Linked DNA regions of Homo sapiens: region 2 is linked to region 1. A link means that fine-mapping ties the variant in region 1 to the plasma level of a protein whose gene starts in the linked region. Region 1 holds a variant in brackets. A gene starts in the other region. All regions are shown on their forward strands.

Region 1 (7,540 bases):
TGAGGCCAGAGTCCAGGGGAGAGCGCCAGCCTCCAGACACACCTCGATGCTCCTCAAAACCCATCTCAGGCTGGCAGCTGCCCCTCCCTAGTGTCTCTAGGGCCAGTGAGCACTCACATGCCAGGGCAGAAGCTCTGGAAATGAGCCACCTCGCCATTCTCTTCCTCCAGGGGAGCAGAGGATGCTAGCATTATTTGAGCACCTACTGTGTGCCAGGCCTTTTCCCCAAATTCTCATTGAATCATCCAAGTGGGACAATATCATCACCCCAATTTAGAGATGAGGATGCTGAGACTCAGAAGCCAGGAGACTCCCTGAAGACTGTGTCTGATCTGGGGCCTCCCCTCTCAACCCCAAATCTGGGCCTCCTCCTTCAGCACCTCTGGCCTACATTTCTGTGACTCCCCCACCTCTTGCTAAGTCCATCTGTCCTGAATTCCAGCCCCATGGAGAATGAGCTGCAATATTCCAGGGTATGCTAGGTGCTGTCCACGGGAGATGCCCACGGTTGCCTTCTGAAGTGGGCACCATTGGACATGGGGATGCTGGGGCTCCAGAAGGGAGGGGCTTGTCCAGGGTCACAGGGAGTGATGCTGGGATGGAGGCCAGAACCCTTACCTGCACGACGCCCACATGGCCTTACCCTCCTTGCTTCTCTGGAGCACCTGTTGTGTGTCAGACACCAGCTGGCTATGCCACACTTCATGTTTCTCTGGGCAATTGAGGAAACATGAGTCCAGGAGAGCATAGATGTCTTCATGGTTTGTTCTTGATGGCTTCCAGGGTTTTCACAAAGCTAGGGCTGGGAGACCCAGGTCTTGATACCCACTGACCTGGGGAGGGAGCTGGGCAGCAGAGGAAGGGGCCAGGGGCCAGGACTCCCTTGAGTCACTACCACTCTGTCTGGCTTCACAGACCTGGAAGACATGTCTGTCATGGTCCTGCGGACGCAGGGCCCTGCAGCCCTCTTTGATGACCACAAACTTGTCCTCCATACCTCCAGCTATGATGCCAAACGGGCACAGGTCTTCCACATCTGCGGTGAGTTTGTGCCACTGCCCCTTGCCATCTGTGCCCTGTTGCCAGGTTGCCTACCAGGGAACCTCCTGTTCCTGCCTTGGGCCATGGGCAGGTCCTGCTTACACTCCGGGAGATGCCCTGGTGGGTGGCGGGTCGCAGTAAGAACAGTCAGAAGTGGGGGCTTTGGAACTGATGAACTGGTGCCCCCAGCACAACACCTGGCCTGAGGTCATTTTATTTGATGAATGACCTTTTCAAATACATTTTAAGCATGTGTAGAAATTCTTATCAAAAATTTCAAACATACACAAAAAGCAGTGCTGTGAATCCCCATGTGCCTGTCACTCAGATTAAACAATTATCACTGTTTTGTCTGTCTCGCTGAAGTTTTGTAAAACCAACCCCAAACACCATAGATTTCACCCAATTAATTCAGTTTGTATTCCCCCCAAATATAGATGGCTGTTGTTTTACATAGTCTGCCAAAATCACAAGAAATACAAGTAAAAATCTAAATGCCTTTGAGAAACTAAAAATGTATACAAGTAATAAGATGCTTTTTTTTTTTTTTTTTTTTTTTTTTTGAGACAGAGTCTCGCTCTGTTGCTCAGGCTGGAGTACAGTGGCGTGACCTCGGGTCACTGCAACCTCCACCTCCTGGGTTCTGGCGATTCTCCTGCCTCAGCCTCCCAAGTAGCTGTGACTGCAGGCATGTGCCACCACACCCAGCTAATTTTTTGTATTTTTAGTAGAGACAGGGTTTCATTGTCTTAGCCAGGATGGTCTCAATCTCCTGACCTTGTGATCTGCCCGCCTCGGCCTCCCAAAGTGCTGGGATTATAGGCGTGAGCCACCGTGCCTGGCCGCTTATTTTTTAAATAATCAGACAATATGGAAGTATAGAAAATGAAACCTGAGAGTTCTCTACCCGTCTCTAAATCTGACTTTTTTTTTTTTTTTTTGAGTCAAGGTCTTGCTCTGTTGCCCGGGCTGGAGTGCAGTGGCATGATCTCAGCTCACTGCAGCCTCCACCTTTCAGGCTCAAGCAATCCTTCCACCTTAGCCTCACGAGTAGCTGGGACTACAGGCATGTACCACCACACCCTGCTAATTTTTTTTTTTTTGTAAAGACAGGGTTTCACCATGCTGCCCAGGCTGGTCGTGAACTCCTGGGCTCAAGCAATCCACCCGCTTTGGCCTCTCAAAGTACTAGGATTATAGGCGTGAGACGCCGCACCTGGCCTGAATCTGATTGTCACTGTTAACGAGTTGGGATGTGTGCTTCCCAACTTTATTCTACATGTTCTCCAGCGTGTGTCCATATGCTGCTTTCCAACCGGCTTCTTTCATTAAGTAATAATCCCACACACCTTTTCTGGTATTTATTGAGCTCTACTTCATTCTTTTCCACTGCTGTATAATATTCCTAAGCATAGAGGTGCTGTGACTTACACAGTTCTCTGAACATCATAGTGGTTTGCAGTGTTTTGATTTTATAACAATGCAGGTTGCTTGAGGTCAGGGGCTTTGTTCAAGTCCAGAACCGTGCCCCATGGGTGCACTGTAGTTGCACAGTAAATATTTGATGAATTAATGAATATCGAGCACTCTTGTACAGAAATATTATGTGACTTTGTACCTATTATTGTTTGTTTGTTGTTGTTGTTTTGTTTTTTGTTGGTTTTGGTTTTTTTTGAGATGGATTCTCGCTCCATGCCCAGGCTGGAGTGCAGTGGTGTGATCTTGGCTCACTGCAACCTCCGCCTCCTGGGTTCAAGCAATCCTCCTGCCTAAGCCTCCTGAGTAGCTGGGATTATAGGTGTGCACCACCACCGCCCGGCTAATTTTTGTATTTTTAGTAGAGACAGGGTTTCACTATGTTAGCCAGGCTGGTCTTGAACTCCTAACTTCAGGTGATCCACCGCCTTCGGTCTCCCAAAGTGCTGTGATTACAGACATGAGCCACCGTGCCCAGCCTGTAGATGTATTTTTGTAGGAAAGATACCTAGCAGTGGAATTGCTGGGCTTGGGGTAAACATTACTTTGTTGGATGCTGCCAAATTGTGCTCCAAAAAGGTATGAGCGCCAGTCTTAGAAAGGAAGACCCTTTCCCCCAGCCGTGGCCCCCACTGTGTATTACCTGTCCTCTCCTTTGCCAGTGGAGGTGAAAGGAGGGAGTTGTTGGAGGACTTGGAATTTTTGGTGAGGCTGCAGACCTCTTCCTGTGTCCCTCATACTCATGCTCCCTGGGCCCACAGGGAGTCACAGCCACCCCGTCCCTCCCCTTCCAGGTCCTGAGGATGTGTGTGAGGCCTATAGGCATGTGCTGGGCCAAGATAAGGTGTCCTATGAGGTACCCCGCTTGCATGGGGATGAGGAGCGCTTCTTCGTGGAAGGCCTGTCCTTCCCTGATGCCGGCTTCACAGGACTCATCTCCTTCCATGTCACTCTGCTGGACGACTCCAACGAGGTAGGGACAGAGGGGGTTCAAGAGGAGCTCCACTCGGGACCAGCCTGGGCAACATGGTGAAACCCCATCTCTACAAAAAAAAAAAAAATAGCGAGGTATAGTGGTGTACACCTATAGTCCCAGTTACTTGGGAGGCTGAGGTGGGAGGATCACCTGAACCCCAGGGAGGTTGAGGTTGCAGTGAGCCATGATCACCCCACTGCACTCCACAGCCTGGGCAACAAAGTAAGACCCTGTCTCCAAAAAATAATAATAATAAAGGGCAGTGGGGAGGACTCCATTCCTGGTAAGTCTACCAGGCACCACTGGTGTGAAAGACCCCAGACTTCTTGACCACCCCTCTGGTTCATTTCCATCTTGCAGAGAAGCAAGGGGTTTTCTTATGGACCACAGTGGTGGAATCAGAGTCCCCCCAGGCCTCTGGACTCCAAGTCCAGTGCTCTTTCTCCCCTGGTCTGCCCCTGCAGGATTTCTCGGCATCCCCTATCTTCACTGACACTGTGGTGTTCCGAGTGG[C/T]ACCCTGGATCATGACGCCCAGCACTCTGCCACCCCTAGAGGTGTATGTGTGCCGGTGAGTCTTGGGGCAGTGGGTGGTCCCTCTGGCCCCCAGGCCCCGGCTCCATCCTGAGCCCCTCTTCCCTGGGCTTGTCCGTAGTGTGAGGAACAACACGTGTTTTGTGGATGCGGTGGCAGAGCTGGCCAGGAAGGCCGGCTGCAAGCTGACCATCTGCCCACAGGCCGAGAACCGCAACGACCGCTGGATCCAGGTAACCACAGCCACTGGGCAGGGCCCAGCAAGGACGCCATCCTGGAGAGAGAGGCCTTCATTTGGGGGCCACCGAGAAACATCCAGGAGGACCTGGGTGCTCCCCAGGGAACTTGCTGCCGTTTCTAATGTGAGACCTAGAGGCTTCTCTCCAGAACCTTCTGGAGACCCACGCTGATCCTGGATTCAACACCCATTCACCCACCGGATCTGGGCTAGGCACTAGGCTAGGCCCACAGGGGTGGCACAGGTGTGAGACACACACTCCCTGCCCTCAACAGCTGAGACCAGTGGTTCTCATCAAGAGGCGATGTGTCCCCAGGAGACGTTTTGCAGTATCTGCAGACAGTGCGCAGGACAAGCCCCCACAATAACATATCATCCAGTCCCACGCCTCAGTAGTGTCGAGGCTGAGAAACCTTGATGTGCAGAATGATTGCTACAAAAATACCTACTCCTACTATCTAGTGTGTAGCTGGGGCAACATGGTGAAACCCTGTCTCTGCAAAAAAGTTAAAAAATTAGCAGGGCATGGTGGCGTGTGTCTGTAGTCCCAGCTACTCTGGAGGCTGAGGTCAGAGGATCACCTGAGTTTAGGAAGGTCAAGGCTGCAGAGAGCTGTGATTGTGCCACTGCACTCCAGCCTCAGCAACAACAACAAAAAAAAAAAAAAAAAAAGAGAGAGAGAGAGAGAGAAAAAGAAATATCTAGGGTGCAGAGGCTATACCAGCAAAGCACCAGTAGGGTTTGGGGGATGCAGCATCACCTCTGCCCAGGGAATCAGTGAAGACCTCCAGGAGGGAGAGCATCTGAGCTGGACCAGATTTGGCAGATGAGGGCACATGACTTCTGCCATTTATGCCCCATTTTCTGCAGGCCAGGCATAGCATCATTTCATCTTCTTGATAACCCCCTGTAAGTCCCCCATAATTCAGGAGCTCTTAGGGGAGCATGACTGGGCCACAGAGCTGGTAAAGGCAGTGCTAGGACTCAGGCTGCCAAGCACCAGGCTGTACAGGTTGGTGGTCCTGGCAGAGACCGAGCATGCGCAAAGGCCCGGGGGTGGGAGGCAGGAGAGAGAACCTTGTGTGTTCTCCTCTGTCAGGGCACTGGTTCTGAGAAAGGCAAGGGTTGAGGTCGGAGACCTTGAATTCCAAGTTAAGGAGCTTTCCTCTTGGCCGGAGGTCAGTCCAGTGAGAGGGTTTGGGGCAGGACTCTGGGGCACGATGGGCTGGGTTTAGAGCCTGGCTGTGCCACCAACTAACTAGCTGTGAGCTTTGGGACAAATATTTTTTAATTTTTATTTATTTTTTTAAATTAATATATTTTGAATTTATTTTTCTTTTTGGAGACAGTGTCTCTCTGTCACCCTGGTTGGAGTGCCATGGCATGATCACAGCTCACTGGCAGCCTGGAACTCCTGGGTTCAAGTGATCCTTCTGCCTCAGTCTCCCGAGTAGCTGAGACCACAGGTGCAGCCACCAGGCTCAGCTAATTTTTTGTAGAGATGGGGTCTTGCCATGTTGCCCAGGGTTGTCTCAAACTCCTGGCCTCAAGCAATCCTCCCGCCTCACCCTCCCAAAGTGCTGGGATTATAGGTGTGAGCCACCGTGCCCGGACTGGATAAATAATTAGACCTCTTAGTTCCTCATTTTCCTCATCTGTCACATGGGATAATTATGGTGCCCACGCCCAGGCATGTCATGAGGATGAATGGAGTTAATGTTTATAAAGAGTTTAGGGCAGGACCTGGATGTGAAGTTCATTCACACTGGGCCATCTTTTCCTCCAGAACCAGAGGGGTCAGGACTGACCTGGGCACATTTATGGATCCAACTCAGGCCACTGTGAGTGCTTCTCTGTGTCCACCTGCCTTGGCCCAGTACTCACAGGGACACCCCCAAGGTCATGTCCATGTTCTCGTTCACCTCCGGCCTCTGTCTTGCTGTGTGACCTTAGACAAGTGCACCCCCTCCTTGAGCCTCCAGCCCCTCCTCCAGTCAGCAGGCACCCTGACCTCGGTCCTGTCCGCCTCCAAGCACAAAACATGCTTGGGCCAGGGGACTTGGTGAGCAGTCTGCCCCACAGGGCTCAGAGCCGAGCCAGCAGGGGCAGCTGTTGACTGTCACAGCTGTGCGTCTCTCGCCTCTCCTCACTTGCAGGATGAGATGGAGCTGGGCTACGTTCAGGCGCCGCACAAGACCCTCCCGGTGGTCTTTGACTCCCCAAGGAATGGGGAACTGCAGGATTTCCCTTACAAAAGAATCCTGGTGAGTGGTCCCGGCCGCAGCCCACCCCTGAGAGCTGAGAGGCCTTACCCCAGGGGCCACACCGGGGTGTGGGGTACAGAGGGCAGCAGTGGGAACCGTGCTCTTTAGGGATGAGGGTAGGGTTGCCAGATAAAATGCAGGGATGCCCAGTCAAATGTGAATTTCAGACAAGCAACAGGTTAACTTTTTGGTGTAAGTACGTCCCAAATATTGCATGGGATATACTTACACTAAAAAAGTTGTCGTTTATCTAAAATTCAAAGTTAATTGGGCATCCTGTATTTTTATTTACTGAATCTGGCAGCCCTAAATAGGGGAGGCAGGATGGTGCACCTGTTCAGAGCACAAGCTTTAGGGTCAGACCAACCCTGTTCCGTTACTTACATGCTGTGTGATGTTGCGTGAGTTACTACCGCTCTCTGAGCCTCAGTTTCCTCATCAGTAAAAATGACATTTTGGCCCTGGCCTCACAGGGGTTTGTGAAGCATCTCATCATCACAGTACCTGCATGGAGGGAGTGTGTGTGCGCGCACCACTATTAGCTAGTATCATTATTTTAAGAAAAAGGATAACAGGGAAGGTGATGATTGCTAACGAGGACCTCTTGAGAAAACAAGAGTGACTTGCCTGGTGCCGTAAAGAACAAGAGACCCCTCCAACCCCCTCACTGATCACACAGATGCTAGGAGCTCTCTCTCCTGACCCTTGATGTTGTCGAAGTTGCTTCTGAGAGATAGCCCTGGGGAGGTCTCCCCTTCTCTAGAGTTCAAAGACAGAGGCCCAGAGGGCCATCAGCAGCCTCTTGGTTCCCACAATTGGCCACTTGAGCTGCTACTTGCCCTTGGGCTGAACTTGCAGGAAGGCTGTGTAGGTAAGGGGATGGAGTGGCCATGGCCTCAGGCTCCATGTCCGATGGGGAGTGCAGGAGCAACCGGAGCGCCCCCTGCTGTCTTGCCGTGATAAGGCAGCAGGGCCAGAGAGTCCGAGCACTTCCCGACTTTGCCTGCTATGCGT
Region 2 (16,701 bases), not on the chromosome of region 1:
TTGTCTCTTTGCCAAGCCATTTTTGGACGTGAATCATTGAGCCATTCTCTAATGTTATGGTGCTCTATAAATGCATAAAGAAATCAGAAGTAGCAACTCACTACCTTCTAACCTACATGAGACCACATATCTACTTTTTAATTTCTATTTTGAAATTCTTTTCTTAAAATCCTCACTTTTGTTGTCATGATGTAGTACTATCAAACTAGAAGTCTCAAGAGATTATTCAATTAGTGCTCTTTCCTAGGCAAACAATGCATAAGCTATTTGTGTTTAGTTGTTTCTTTCTATGTGCTCTTTCATATGACAAAGAGATAAGAAAAAATGAAATGAAAACAATTTGAATCTTTTAGCCCTATTGTTAACCATCAAAATAATTAGCAAAAGGATTAACTTTAGAGATGTGCGACTATTAACAGAACAAGCCCAGACAGACTTGGTGATAAATCAAATTACAGTAAACCATGCCTAACCACCTTCTAACTTTTTCCTGATTGTTGAACACCAGGAAGAATTAGTTCTGACCTTTACTTTCCGGTTGTCTGCTGTAGTTTCATCAAATTCTTCCCCCAGCTTGAAGGAGATCTTAGTGTCCTGGAAAGAACTTTCTGTTCTTATGGTCATCATTTTCCCATCAACACTAATAGTTACTGTCGGTTTCACTAACCCTGCCATGTTCCGGGCTGCGAAATTCACTCCTACAAGACAGAGATAGCCTTGGACCTTATTAAGACATTGTTAACAATCACTCTGGAAGTCAATTTTCAAAGAATGCTTACTTTACCTATTTTGAAATTTTGGATAATGTATAGTAACTTATTTTATGTTTTCTGTGATATCAGGGCTGAGCTAGATCCTCCCAGTCATAAGGTATATATGTGACATTTTGAAAAGCTAAATTCACTCTCTGAGACTATTACACTTCCTCTAAAATGTAAATTTGTATGGTGCCTTTCAAGAGATCAAATGCTTGCACTTCACCTTGTGGAGTGTTACGATAACCTTGTGGGTGCGGGAGGAGTTTGACTTAGAGCCTGGCCCTGTGGTTTGGTTGGGAATTTCCCATTGTCAAACTTGACTCCTGCAGTTGGTGGGCAGAAGAGCTGACTCCTTCTCTGTCCTGATATCAAACTCCATTTCACATTTAGATTGTGGAACTGATATGACACATCTTACTGTAGAGAAGCAGTGTTAGACATCTGCATCACAAAGAAGAGTGAGATGGTTAAAACCCAGGCTCTAACTTGGCCACTTGCTAGCTTGGGCATATTATTTACCTCTCCTAACCTTCAGTTTTCTCAATAGTAAAGTGTGGATAACTGTATACTTGACCTCGCAAGTTTTTTTTTTGTTTGTTTGTTTGTTTGTTTTTTGTTTTGAGACAGAGTCTCGCTATGTTGCCCAGGCTGGAGTGCAGTGGCACAATCTCAGCTCACTGCAACCTCTGCCTCCCAAGTTCAAGCGATTCTCCTGCCTCAGCCCCCCGAGTAGCTGGGATTACAGGCACATGCCACCATGCCCAGCTAATTTTTGTATTTTTAGTAGAGATGGGGTTTCACCATGTTGGCCAGGCTGATCTCGAACTCCTGACCTCAGGTGATCCACCTGCCTTGGCCTCCCAAAGTGCTGGGATTGGAGGCCTGAGCCACTGTACCCAGCCAGCGGATGTTTTAAAAGGTTAAATGAAAGGGGTTAGCATGGTACTGGCACATAGAAACTGCTCAGCTGTTATTCTTGCTTGTATTATGCCTAAACCCAGCTCCCAGTCAACACAAGTGCTACTCTGGCCATAAGGCCCAAGTTTTTTATATACCCCCCCAATTTTTATTCAAAACAAGTGAGTCTATAAATCTATGAAGAGACAGAAAAACTTGTTTCTTATGACCCTCTGAGAAAGTGAATATTGACTACATCAGAGGAACAAATATTACATTTATAAGCACATTGACTTATTATGGGGATAAGGCATTGTTATTTCATTGTCTAGAATGAGTAAACATAATTAATAATTGTAAGCATCCATTAAGCATGTTATGTAAGTTAAAAAAAAGTAAAGATAAGAAAGTCCTTGGCTTTGTATACAGTTTACTACAAGGGAGGTTTCTCTTAATTAAATATGAAAAATATGAAATAATTGCTGTTCTTCCATTAGTAAAGAACAGTTTAGCTATTATACACCCAAGTCATTATAATTAATGTGTAACTAAATGACTTGAGTTAGAGATTAAAGGATTGGTAGGGTTTATAATTCTGAGGAATATCCAGTGGTGAGACATTCAATGAGTAAAAATGTTGTGTTTCTTCAGATTTGTAATTCTTCAAAACCATGTTTATAAAATATCTCTCACATTTATGAGAACTCTAAAAATTAACCAACTAGAAATTTTGTTAGTTGATACTGCTGTTTTAAAGCTATAACTTAAACCTTGAAACAAATTTAATTGATCAATTTAATTGTAGGTAGTGATTACTGTCTATAAATTTGAAGCTGGGAAAAATGTTATTAAATGAAATGACCAAGCTAAAATGAAATTCTATCTAGAAGTTAGGTGAAGTATTTTCAAAAAGGATAAATGGGCTTAAATATATGGATCATGACTGGACAGAGGTGTCTGTGGGCCTAGTCTTCCAAAAAGAGACAATTATTACTAGTAATTTAAAAAAGCAAAAGTAGAAGCATACATTGTGTTAGTCTATATACCCTAGGATCACAAAAGGAAGATAATTGTAGGAAAATTCATGGTAAAGTACAAACCCAATCACATCACAAAATGCTTTGCCAATTTCCAAATTTGTAATGGTATTTCTCACCCAGTTCTTTCATGTAATCCTCAAAGTTTTCACTGGAGACCAGCTTCCAGGTTCCCAAGAAGGGCTCAACCATCATGGAACACTTGCTGAGAAGAGCCACTCGTAATTGAAAACCAAAGAAATATAGGCATTACGGTGCTGCCAGTAGTTTAATTTAAAGAGCGTCTTCATCACGTGACTCTTCTGAAATGGCCAATGGGCAACAGCAGCAAGACTAAAGATTCTAGGCACCAGCATTTGACTCATTTTATTTACCTCCAAATTAAGAGACAGAAAATTAGCATGTAAAATTAAATTCTGGTCAATGATTTTAGCTTCTAGCAAAAAGATTTACACCCAAGTCACCTGACAAATATTACTTGTGGAACGGAGACAATCTTCAATAGACATCAGCTTTTTGAACAATGAATACTGAGTCAACCCTGGAGGAATATCCTGACAAATTGATAAACACCTGGCTGAGATGTTTTCCTACCTAAGACAAGAAATCCTTGCTTGGTCCACCTCAGCTGTTTTTTGTTTGGGTAAGTCACAGTGCTCAAACATCCTCTTCATTAAAATAATATCTTCCCTTCCCTTCCTTACAGGGTTGATGGGTTGATATTAGTTAATGTAACTAAAATGCCTATAATTGCTTGGAGGGAAATGGAGGGTATTATTAATATATTATCATTGTTGTTAATCGAAGGTAATTGAGGACAGGAAAGAAAGGTGACAATTATCATTGGATAATAGTATATGATTTAAGCTCTGAAAAGGAAGCAGAGCGAATGCCTACAAAATTCGTCTTTCAGGCTTACAAAGTAAACTCTACATTAAAAGATATTTTAAATTATAAGAAAAAATTTTGGCAAGTTTCATATAGAAAAAGATGTTTGGAATCTGCATTCTAAAAGAAAGACAAAGGCAGCAAATGGTTTCAATCTCTGTGCCATTACTTCTGAAACCATCTTCTGCAACCCCAATAATGGAAGTGGACTTTGCAGGTACTGAGTTTAGTAAGAAGGAGTAGATTCAGTAGCTGTTGATTTACATTACGGTTTTGAACTCCAGTTAACTTTAGAAGATGTTGGAAAGTTAGTGTCAGGGACCAGAAGAAGAATATTTATATTTTTACCTGCTTTGTATGAAGTATTTATTTAATTCAGAAAATATTGTTTGTGAACAAAATAAACAGGAGGTTGATATTTTGGTACTGTAAAACAATAACTTAAGTGGAATAAAGGATGGCTTTTGATGAAAACATATAAAGAAGAAACATATAATGTGATATCTTTATGGGTGGGACAATTATTAAATTATCTACAGTGCAAAACAGGGTAAGTGAAAATCCTGGAGTTAATTTCAGGAAACTAAGACCCAAGCTCAAAATAAGTGCCTCAGCAGTTGAAAGTGCATTCAGAGGTGATGTTCAAATATAGAGCAAGTTGTTAAACGTTTGCTTAACTGGTTCGAGATGTGTATGCACTCTCTGCTTTAAAGAAAGCAAGCATACATTGCTATGCCTGTTGGCCAGCTGGGTAGTGTAGCAAAGGTCTCCCATCAGCATAATCTTCCTTGTTGTTTTGATTCTCCTGTCATAGAATGATATTCCTGTGGTCCGTTTAGAACTCAGTTGGCCCATGAGACAAAAGCTAACATCAGATTTCTGGTTTCAATTATCCTCAGCAAACTAACGCAGGAAGAGAAAAACACCTCATGTTCTCACTTATAAGTGGGAGCTGAACAGTAAGAACACATGGACACAAGGAGGAGAACAATGCACACTGGAGCCTGTTGGGGCCAGGGCTATGGGGGGAGGGAGAGCATCAGGATAAATAGCTAATGCATGTGGGGCTTAATACCTACGTGATGGGTTGATAGGTGCAGCAAACCACCATGGCACACATTTACTTATATAACAAACCTGTACGTTCTGCACATGTATCCCAGAACTTAAAATAAAATAAAATAAAAATTCTGGCTTCTGTAAAATTCCCCACCCCTAGGAGAGAACCAAAGGGAGAGACAGTCTCTCTTTTGCCTCTACACATTTTTCTATCTCACGTGATATTTACAAGTGCTGCATCCATTGTGTTACCTCCTCAAAGATGGGGCCAGAACTGAGGATAGCAGAGCAGAAACGTGGAAGGAACTGAAGGCCACTTTATTTCAAAAATTTATATTATGTTAGTTAATAAATTCCATTCTTATTTAAACAGTTTTGTCTCTGAGCTTTTGTTACTTGTAGAAGAAGTCTTCATAATTACTACGCCTTTGTAAATAGCTTCACCAAATGGTGAATTTGGACCTTCACAACAACCAGTTGCATGAATCACATAGAGCTGGCCTCATGACAGCAGAGACCCATCTTCCTGAACCAACTCAAACATCTCTTTCCCTGTGACACTGGTTCAGAGCTAGATAATCCCCATGGCGTGAAGATAGAAATAAATGTTTAAGAGAAGTATATTAGCTTATTTCATAGTACTGCAAAGAGCTATTTCCCAGCTGTCTCCTGAGCTATTCTATGAGTATATCAAAAAAAGAAAATATTTTCCACTCACTTCTGTATCCTTAAGACAGTATCTGGCATATCATAAGTGTTCAATAAATGTTTTATGGATGAGTGACCAAAGAAATAAGTAGTATTTTTTTTAACTGGTAATTCTCATTAGTGTTCTTTATCTCTCTAACAGTGACTAAAGACAGAGTTTTAGTACATTATCTTCTCCTGACCTGGTCCTATGACAGGCCTTTTATTCTGGTCATTATCAGATGGTGGAGGGATGCTCAGACTCTCTTCATCTTTCTCAGTTATATAGCACAAGTCTCCCTTCTCAACTAAGAAAGTTCTCTGCTATTTCTGTTGCTACCACCGCTAGCCTTTGGCACTTTGGTTTGATTATATAAAAAAAGTGAACACCATTTCCTCAAGTAGAAAAAAAATTTTTAATCAGATTGTTCCTAATGTTAATCCTAGTAAAGGAACTAGAATACTGTAGTTTGTTATAGAATAGTTACATGTCTTGTTCTTATGACAGTTTCAAGGCTCATTTCTCCAATATGTCATTTTTCTATGAACTTTCAGCATCTCATTTTCTATATTGATTTTCTTGTGACATTTTAAGACATCAAGTAGTTTTGAATAATTTTTAATTTTGAGATGCTATGGTTGCCACTGATGATGGATACTGGTAAAGTTAAACATATACTGGAAGCTACACAAGTATTCAGAAATATGTCTGATAATTTATTGTTGCACATATAGTACTTTAGCTGGATTTGATAAAGCATCTAAGATTCTTATTTCCACATGCAGTGACACCTCTAAGTATCATATTCCTTACTGTGTTCATCATTCAATTTCAATTTTAAAGATGCAATAATATAATGACTTTTCAAAGTGTACATTTAATCTAGGACTCTGAAAAGTAATTATTTAAAATTTTTCTTTTTAAGACGATATTATATTATCCAATAAGGAAAACAAGTATTTTGAAATTAACTTTGGTTAATAGTCTGAATGTGATATTTGTCATTGAAATAGTCTTCCATTTGCTAGTATTTTCTACACTAGAGGAATTGATGTTATAATTTCAAGAGACTATTTGCTTAACATAAAAGATATATTTTTTTAAAACATCACTTTTTCCAATAATTTTTTTATATATGGGGCTTATAAGAGAATTTTTACATTGTTTTTACTTCTGGATCACTTCACTTATAATAAAAATTTTACTTAAAACAACCATACCAAATTAACTCTGAGCAAGTAATTGTTTTAATATGACAACTTCCAGTTTATTTTTACTAGTTACAAAATAAGTCCATCTCTTATCTATTATTTACTGCTTAATAGGTATATATAAAAATAGCAATTTCTTTCTTTTGTTTTTGGTGAAGGTTATTTATTTGAAGTGCTCACTATTTAAGAGCATATGGAGGCGGCTGACCACCTTGAAAATTCACCTGTAGTAGGACTGTTCCTTTTTTTTTTTATTTTTAATTTTACGTTAAGTTCTGGGATACATGTGCAGAATGTGCAGGTTTGTTACATATGTATACATGTACCATGGTGGTTTGCTGCACCTATCAACTGTCATCTAGGTTTTAAGCCCTGAATGCATTAGGTATTTGTCCTGATGCTCTCCCTCCCGTTGGCCCCCACCCCCTGACAGGCCTCAGTGTGTGATGTTCCCCTCCCTGTGTCCATGTGTTCTCATTGTTCAACTCCCACTTATGAGTGAGAACACGTGGTGTTAGGTTTTCTGTTCCTGTGTTAGTTTGCTGAGAATGATGGCTTCCAGCTTCATCCATGTCCTTGCAAAGGACATGAACTCATTCTTTTTTAAGGCTGCATAGTATTCCATGGTGTATATGTGCCACATTTTCTTTATCCAGTCTATGATTGATGGGCATTTGGGTTAGTCCAAGTCTTCGCTAAAAAATAGCAATTTCTTTCTAAGGAGTTATGCATATCATATTTATTAACATGTAAAGAATTTTTAGGCAAATTCATTTTTTGGCAATTGATATTTTCTCTTGTTTCATGCCACCTTCTTCCCCTAACTTTATTCTATTTGGTTGAGGTTTTTTTTGGTTACCTTTTAAATTTGAAATAATTACAAAAACACTTCCCGAACAACACAGAAAACTCCCATATATACTCTTTGCCCAGATTTCACAATTGTCAACATTCCAACACTTTTGTCCCTACCTCTCTCTATCTCTCTCCCTCCCTCCCTCCCTCTCTCTCTTCATAAGAAGCAAGCTGTTTGTTGCTCAGTCATTGAGAGTAAGTTGAGAAATGTTGCCCCACTCCTCTCCAAACAAGGATCTCAATCAGGAAATCAACACTGATGGCAATACTGCTATCTAATCCACAGACCCCACTCAAACCTTACCAATTGTCCTGACAGTTTTTCCTTTTCCTACTAAAAAAAAGGGAAAAAACCCAGCCTTTCTGACCCAGAATCCTGTCCGTGATCATGCGTTGCTTTCAGCCATCATGTCTCTTTAGTCTCCTTCAATCAGGAACAGATCTTTAGTCATTCCTCATCTTTTAGTACTGGAGACACTGGGGAAAAAAATCACTGTTCTAAGCAAGAGGCTGGGTCATCTGCTGAAAACTGACAAGTAATTTTTACATGAAAACTGAGGTCAGTAATGCTTCAGACTTTGAAAGGAGTATATCTAAATCAGAAATTGTAGCCCTTTGATGGCTAGAGTGGGAATTAGGGAAGAGGGGATAGCCAGCTCATTACTTAACCTGATCCTGTGTTTCTAAAGAGGGAGTGACTGGCTTTTTGGACTATTCATATCTGCTTCAAGATATAGGTGGACTCTATGACCACACTGTGGGTTTTGGAGAGGTACTCACTTAATCCTGCCTCTCTTCCTTTCAGAGTACAGTGTCCTCTATGCCTTTATGTATGTATTGATAGAAACAATGTCAAAAAGTGGAAAATTATATGAGCTTCACAGAGATCCCAGGCAAGATAAATGGGATAAATTGGGGAGCTGTTACTTGAAGATCTTTCTTGGATGTATCTATGGACTTAGTTTTATGGTGAAAATATAGGAACGTGAATTTGACTTATCTATCAAATTTATATTGAACTGGATCTTCTTATTCTATGATTCCACACCAATTGAAAAATAATAATTAGACTTGAAGACTACATTTTCAAAAATGACTAAATTCACAAATATACCTACATAAACGGACTTTGTAAAGGATTAGCACAGAGGCAACATTAGGGATGAGGAAGGCTTGAGAAGAAGGGAGTGGGAAAAAATGAATTCTGCCCAGGAAGAAGCAGAATGTAAAGTACAAAACAAACAGAAACCTTGAGGCAAGAAAGAAGATGCATGTTGGTATGATGGAAGCAAGAAATGTGAAGAGAACAGAGACATGATAAAACTGGAGAGTTAGATTTAAAAAAGGCAAGGATAAGACAGCTTCCACATGCCATGCTAACAGGATTGGACCTTTTCTGCCTACAATGAGAGTCACTAAAAGGTTTTAATCAGTGAATGTCCCAGTCAGATTTCCATTATCTAATCATTCATAAAGTCTACAGGGCTTAGGAAAGACTGGAGGTAATAGAGACCTAAAGACAGAACTCTGAAGTAATTAAAGAAAAAAATTACAGTAATATGGGTGGTGGGAAGAAGAAAAGCAAACATAGTAAAGAAGTTTGAAGTTAATATAATCAATATTTTAAAAAATAAAGTAAATGTTATGGAGTGAGGAAGGAGGATTATTCGAGAATGATTTTAAGAGTTTTGAAATGAAAAACAAGATGGAACATTCTGACGTTGCTGAGATGTGGAAAAGAGGATGAGGAACAAGTTTAAGGGAGAGGGTGGAAGGAATTGCTCATGATAAATTTGGGTTTAGGGGCCGGGGACATCCACTTGTACACCTTTAACTCTTTTTAACTCTCCCTTCTCCTTTGGTTATATAATCACCTTTTTTTGGTGGGAGAGTTATTGTGGTAAAATACACAAAATATTTGCTATCTTAACCATTTTAAGCATGCATTTCAGTGGTGTTAAGTACATTCATATTGTTGTGCAACCATCACCACCATCCATATCCAGAACTCTTTTCATCTTGCAAAACTGAAACTCTGTGCCTGTTAAATAGTAACTTTGTATTCCCCTTTTCCCACAGACCCTAGGAACCATGGTTCTATTAATACATTCTATCTGTGATTTTGACTACTCTAGGTACCTCATGTAAGTGAAATAATATAGTGTTTGCCCTTTCATCACTGGCTTATTTTACTTAGCATCATGTCCTCAAGGTTCATCTGTGTTGTAGCATATGTCAGAATTTCCTTCTTTTTAATACTGAGTAATAATAATTCATTGCATCTATATACTACATTTTGCTTATCTATGCATCTGTCCATGGATGCTTGAGTTGCTTCCATGTTTTAGCTATTGTGAATAACTTGCTATAAACATGGGTGTACAAATATCTCTTTGAGACCCTGCTTTCAATTTTGGGGGTATACATCCAGATGTAGACTTGCTGGATCACATGGTAATTCTATTTTTAATTTTTAAAGGAATTGTCATACTGTTTTTTACAGTGGCTTTACATTTCTACCAACAGTATGCAAGGGTTCCAATTTCTCTACATCCTTGCTAACACTTGTTATTTTCCAGTTTTTGTTAATAGTCGTTATTCTGATAGGTGTGAGAAGGAATCTCATTGTGGTTTTGATTTGCATTTTCCTAATAATTAGTGATTCTGAGTGGAAAAAGCACAAACTATTTTTCCTCTGCTCTCATACTACAACAATCAACACTGAAAACTTCTGTGACCAAATATGTGGGGATTTCTCCCCACCAACAAGCTCGTAATAAATTCTACAGCAGACACCAGCTGAGTGTCCTCTAACTCAATTCAATTCTGACACAATCTCCCTGGAGGTAAAATCAATCTCACAAGACTGCCCCCAACTTCAGACACCAGTAGCAAGTCCAGGCCGCTGGAACTTCTGACCAACAGGCTTCAAGCTGGGGTTTCCATGACCGCCTCCTGGGGTTTGATTAATTTACTAGAGCAGCTCACAGAACTCAAAGAAACACTATGTTTACTGGTTTATTATAAAGGATATTACAAAGGATACAGATGAAGAGATGCATAGGGTGAGGTATGGGGTCAGGGGCATGAAGCCTCCCCAGGTACTCCACCCTCCAGAAACCTCCTGTGTTCAGCTACTGGAAGCTCTCTGTAACCCATCTCTTCAGACTTTAAGCAGATGTCATCAGACAGTCATGATTGAAACACAGACAACAATGTAGAAATGTAATTGGACCAAAAAAGTATGATTATAATACAAAAGACTGAGTGAGGAAACCCAGCAAGGCCTACCTGTTTAGTTCTTCTTTGGTTCCCTGGAGCAGGACCCCTTTCTTGTAGTGTCTCTGCCTGGCCTTACTATCAGGATAATGCTGGCCTACTAGAATGAATTAAAAACGGTTTCCTTCTCTTCAACATTTTGGAAAAATATGAGAAGGATTGGTGTCGTTCTTTAAATGTTTGGTAAAATTCACCTGTGACGCCAAGAGGTCCAGAGATTATCTTTGTTGTGAGATTTTTTATTATGATGACCTGCAATCAGACAAGGTAAGTCAGAGCATTTTTTCATGTCCAGCTCCAACACAGAGTGGTGGGGTTAGAGGAGAGTATATTTTTAGCTTTTATGACCTGCCTTGGGGAGAAAAAAATGTTCCCGGACCAAACTGAAGGTTGAGCTGCCATTTCTCTTGGCCCCATAACAAGATGCAGAAGAAGTGGGGAGGAAGAAAGTTTTAATTTCTGTAACCAGTTACAGAGAGAAGGCCTGGAAATTATTGCCAGACCAACTCAAAATAACAAAGTTTTCCAGAGCTTCTATACCTTCTAAGCTATATGTCTATGTGTAAATGTGCATTCATCTAAAGACATAAGTGATTAACTTCTTTTAATCTATAGCTAAGGTCTGAGTCCTGAAGACCTTCTTCTGGAGCCTCAGTAAGTTTACTGAATCTAAATGGATCTAGGTGCTGGGGTGATTACCTTTATCTTGCCTCCCGCTAAATCATAAAGGTTTGGGGAGTTCCTTTAGACACCAATAAACTTTTTTGTGGAGGCCTGGGGAGTTTCTTCAGACCCCCAATAAAACTTGTTAAATCCTAAAAGGGTCCTATTAACAATTCCTTCATTATCTTGTCATGCTTCAAGGCCCAGGAAAAGACTAGGCAAAAACTCTTGGTGAGCTCTTTGTTACACTCCAGCCTTTGTATACGGGCACTGGCTCAATCATCTTTTAATGGTTAACCTTGTTACTCAGTCAGTGCTGGGACAGTTGTAGTGGAGGCCTGCATTAGTGAGACCTAGCCTGCCACAAAAGGAGCATATGAAAGGAGGGCAGGAGAAGGTCAGAGAGAGAGAGAGACAGAGATTCTGTTTTCTGAGGCCTGCTTCTGAGGCCAATATTGTAACAAAACGCTGTCCTTCATGTTTATTGCTCTGACACTTTCCTGAAGTTGCTTCAGGGATCAAAGACAGAAGGCTGAATACCTAGCTACTTATGAAATAACAAGGCTGTGGGAGTTCTGAGCCAAGAACCACGGACAAAAATAAATAAATAAATAAATAAATAAATAAATAAATAAATATATCTTACCCTTCATATAGTCACAGGGATGTTGAGCATCTTTTCATATGCTTATTGGACATTTATATATCTTCTTCTTTTTTTTTTTTTTTGAGACAGAATCTCTCTCTGTCACTCAGGCTGGAGTACAGTGGCATGACCTCGGCTCACTGCAACCTCCACCTCCCAGGCTCAAGCGATTCTCGTGCCTCAGCCTCCTGAGCAGCTGGAACTACAAGCATGCACCACCTTGCCCAGCTAATTTTTTTGTATTTTTTGTAGAGATGGGGTTTCATTATGTTGGCCAGGCTGGTCTCAAACTCATGGCCTCAAAGGATCTGCCCTCTTCAGCCTCCCAAAGTGCTGGGATTATAGGTGTGAGCCACCACACCCTACCTTATATAACTTCGTTGGAGAAATGTCTATTCAAGTTCTTGGCCCATTTTGTAAATCAGGTTGTTTGTTTCTTCTTGTTGAGTTTTAGAGGTTCTCTAGATGTTCTTTTTTTTTTTTTTTTAGTGATGGGGTCTCACTCTGTCACCCAGGCTGGAGTGCAGTGGTGGAATTATAGCTCACTGCAGCCTCAAAGTGAGTAGCTGGGATTATAGGCATGAGCCAGTGTGCCCAGCTGCTCTGGGTATTAATCCCTTTTCAGAGATATGATTCACAAATATTTTCTCCAGGTCTACCTTTCCACACTGCTGATAGTGTCTTTTGATGTACAAAATGTTTAACTTTCATAAAGTACAACTTGACTATTTTTTCTTTTGTTGCCTGTCCCTTTTGTGTCATATTCAGGAAATCACTGCCAAATCCAATGGAATGAATTTTTTGCTCTATGTTTTCTTCTTTGCTATGGTCTAAATGCTTGTGTGCCCCCAAAATTCGTATGTTGAAATGTTAACCTCCAAGTTGATGGTATTAGGAGGAAAAGCCTTTTGGAGTTGATTACATCATGAGAGTGAAACCCTCTTGATTGAGATTCAAGCCCTTATAAAAGAAACCCCAGAGAAGTAGCTTATTGCTTCCACCATGTGAGGACACAATGGGTAGGCAGTAAGTGGACCCTTCCCAGACATTGAATAACACTTTAATCTTAGACTTCCCAACTTCAAGAACTATGGTAAATAAATTTCTATTATGTATAGCTCCCTAGTTTGTATTGATTTATTATAGCCTAAATGGACTAAGGTAGTCTTTGTGTCTACCTTTCTGCCAAGACTATACTATTTTGGTTATTATAGCTTGGAAATAAGTTTTGACAGCAGGGAGTCTGAGCCCTCCAAATACATTCTTTTTCAAGATCATTTTGGCCATTTGGGGGTCCTTGGAAATGTTATGAATATTAGTATGGATTTTTCTATTTCTGCAAAACATGTCATTGAAATTTTGAAAAGGATTACATTAAATCTGTAGATTGCTTTGGGTAGTATTAACATCTTACCAGTATTGAGTCTTCCAATTCATAATCATAGGATGTCTTTCCATTTATTTATGTCTTAATTTATTTCAGCAAAATTTTGCAGCTTTCATTGTACAAGTTTTTATCACATTGAATAATTCCCAAATATTTTATTATTTTCAATGATGTAAATGAAATTCTTTTCAAAATTTCCTTTATATTGTTTATTGTTAGTGTATAGGATTACAACTGATTTTTATGTTAATTTTATACCTGAAACTTTGCTGAAATTATTTATTCTTCCTAACAGTATTTTGTGTGGAATCTTCAGGGTTTTTTACACGTAAGATCAGATCATATGTGGAGACAGTTTTACTTCTTTCTTTCCAGTTTGGATCCCCTTTATTTATTTTTCTTGACTAATTGCTCTAACTAGGACTTCCAGTACTATGCTGAATAGAAGTGGTGAAAGCTGGCATCCTTGCCTTGATCCTGATCTGAAAGAAAAAAACCTTCAGGTATTTCACCATTATGTGTGATGTTAGCTATGGGCTTGTCATAATTGGCCTTTATTACGTTGAAGTAGTTTCCTTTTATTCCTAGTTTTTTGAAAGTTTTTTTTTTTTTTAATCATGAAAGGGTGTTGAATTTTGTGAAATGCTTTTTCTGCATCAGTTGAAATGATTGTGTGTTTTGGTCCTTCCATTGTGTTAATAGAATGTATTACATCAATCAATTGTTATATTTTGAGCCATCCTTGAATTCCAGGAATAAGTCCTGCTTGGTTATGTTACTAGTACTTTCTTGAAGATTTTGCATCAATGTTCATAAGGGATATTACTCTGTAGTTTTATTTTCTTGTAGTGTCTCTGTCTGGATATGGTATCAGGGTAATGCTGGCTTCATATAATGAGTTAGAAAGTGTCTCCTTCTCTTCAATAGTTTGAAAAATTTTTGAGAAGAATTTATATTACTTATTCTTTAAATATTTGGCAAAATTCACCTGTGAAGACAGGAGGTCAAGGGATTTTCTTTATTGAAAGATTTTTTTGATTAAATTTCCTTGCTAGCTATAGGTCTATTCAGATTTTTAAATTTATTTCTTTATAATTTAGTCTTGATAAGTTTTGTGTTTCTCAAAATCTGTCCATTTCGTAAGGTTATTTCATTTGTGTACAATTTTTTATAGTTCTTTCTTCTAATTATTTTTATTTCTGTAGAATTGGTAGTAATATACTAACTTCCATTTCTGATTTTAATAATTTGAGTTTTCCCTCTTTTTCATTCTTAGTCCATTTATGTCTGTCAATTTTTTTTTTTTTTTTTTTTTTGAGATGGAGTCTTGCTGTCACACAGCCTAGAGTGCAATGGCATAATCTCAGTTCACTGCAACCTCTGCCTCCCGGGTTCAAGCGATTGTCCAGCCTTAGCCTCCCGAGTAGCTGGGACTACAGGTGTGTGCCTCCATACCTGGCTAATTTTAGTATTTTTGGTAAAGATGGCATTTCGCCATGTTGGCCAGGCTGGTTTCAAACTCCTGACCTCAAGTGATCTGCCCACCTCGGCCTCCCAGGGTGCTGGGATTACATGCATGAGCCACTGCACCTGGCTCTGTCAATTTTTTTTTTAAATATTTTCAAAGAATTAACTTGGTTTCATTGATTTTTTCTACTGTTTTCTCTATCTCTCTTTTGTATATCTCTGCTCCAATTTTTATTATTTTCTGACTTCTGCTAGCTTTGAGTTTATTTTGTTGTTTCTCAGTTCATTAAGTTGTAAAGTTGCATTTTTTATTTGAGATCTTTCTTGTTTGCTAATTTAAGTATTTATAGCTCTACATTTCCTCCTGAGCACTACTTTCACTGTACCCCATAAGTTTTAGTATGTTGTGTTTTCATTTTTATTCAATTCTAAGTGTTTTCACACTTCCCTTTTGATTAATTCTTTGATCCACTTATTAAAAGTGTGTTGCATATGGACACATATAGGGGAACAACACACTGGGGAATTTCAGAGGGTGGAGGGTGAGAGAAGAAAGAAGATCAGGAAAAATAACTAATGAGTACTAGGCGTAATATCTAGCTAATGAAATAATCTGTTCAACAAACCCCAATAACACAAATTTACTTGTGTATCAAACTTGAACTTGTACCCTTGAACTTAAAATAAAAGGTTTTTTAAGAGTATTGCTTAATTTACACAATTTTGTGAATTTTTTAGTTTTACTTGTTATTGACTTCATGAGGAAACTGTGGATATTTTCTATCCTATAACATCTATTGAGACTTAGTTTGTGGCCTAACATATGGTCTATCTTGGAAAATGTTCCATTTACAGTTAAGAAGAATATGTATGCTGCTGTTATTTGGTGGAATGTTCTATGTATGTCTGTTGTATCTAGTTGGTTTATTGTGTTGTTTAAATCCTCTGTTTATTTACTTGTCTTCTGTCTGGTTTTATCCATGGGGGTTGGAGGGGGAGAGTATTATTGAAATCTCCAACTATTACTGTAGAACTGTTTGTTTTTCTGTTTGGTTTTGCTTATGTTTTTTATTGTCATTAGGTGAGTAAATGTTTATAATTGTTATACTTTCTTGATGTATTGAAACAATATACATTGCCCTTCTTTGTCTCTTGTGTGTAATTTTTTTTTTTAATTTAAAGTCTATTTCATCTGATATTATTATACCAACCCCTGTTCTCTTTTGGTTACCATTTACATGAAATTTATTTTTCCATTCTTTTACTATCAATCTATTTTTGTCTTTGGGTCTAAAATAAGTCTCTCGTAGACAGTGTACAGTTGGATCATTTTTTAAAACTTTATTCTGACAATCTCTACCTTTTGATTGGAGAGTTTAATCCATTCACTTACTTCTGTCATTTGTTGTTTGTTTACTATATGCATTATAGCTTTTTGTATTTCGTCTTCTGCATTACTGTCTTGTTTTGTGTTTACTTGGTTGTTTTATAGTGAACACTTTAATTTGCTTCTTATTCCTTTTTGTGTATATTCTATAGCTATATTTTTCTGGTTACCATGGGGATTACATTTAACACCCTAAAGTTATAACACTCTAATTTGAATTTATACCAATTTAACTTCAGTAACATACAAACATGCTGCTTCTTTACAATTCTGTCCTATCTGGTTCAATTATTCATGTCACAAAATTACAACTTCATACATTGTATGTCCAAACACAAAAATCATCATTTTAAAAATGCATCCGTTTCTTTATGTAAAAAACAAAATATAGAGTCACAAACCAAAGCTAAAATAATACTAGTTTTTAGGCTAAAAATCTAAATATTTTTAGTTTTAGACTAAAAATATATTCGTCTTTT

Which allele goes with the higher level. Alleles are on the strand shown, and positions count from the first base shown. The strength of an association depends on the size of the effect and on how common the allele is.
With allele C in place of T in region 1, the plasma level of the protein whose gene starts at base 2,940 in region 2 is lower (weak association).

What was found. PIP is the chance, under the fine-mapping model, that this variant and not a neighbour inherited with it causes the effect. The UK Biobank Pharma Proteomics Project read protein levels with antibody pairs (Olink). The fine-mapping took linkage between variants from a reference panel, not from the people measured, so its PIPs are less certain.
Region 2: FABP9 starts here. The variant in region 1 is fine-mapped to the plasma level of the FABP9 protein (UK Biobank, PIP above 0.99).

What each region holds. Positions count from the first base shown.
Region 1 is chr1:17,266,922-17,274,461 of GRCh38, forward strand. PADI3 (peptidyl arginine deiminase 3) reads left to right here. Exons shown (of 16, transcript NM_016233.2): 6 at 916-1,041; 7 at 3,312-3,490; 8 at 3,958-4,061; 9 at 4,146-4,257; 10 at 6,419-6,526. Among named protein-coding and RNA genes, the nearest start is that of MIR3972, 7.2 kb to the right of the region's middle. RefSeq lists a silencer at 3,776-4,019 and an enhancer at 7,076-7,540. The variant C/T (reference allele first, on the strand shown) is at 4,007.
Region 2 is chr8:81,458,640-81,475,340 of GRCh38, forward strand. FABP9 (fatty acid binding protein 9) reads right to left here and starts at 2,940. Exons shown (of 4, transcript NM_001080526.2): 1 at 2,812-2,940; 2 at 526-698; 3 at 1-64. The coding sequence starts at 2,884. It overlaps LOC101927118 (a long non-coding RNA gene), which reads left to right and starts at 2,819. Exons shown (of 9, transcript XR_001745980.2): 1 at 2,819-3,335.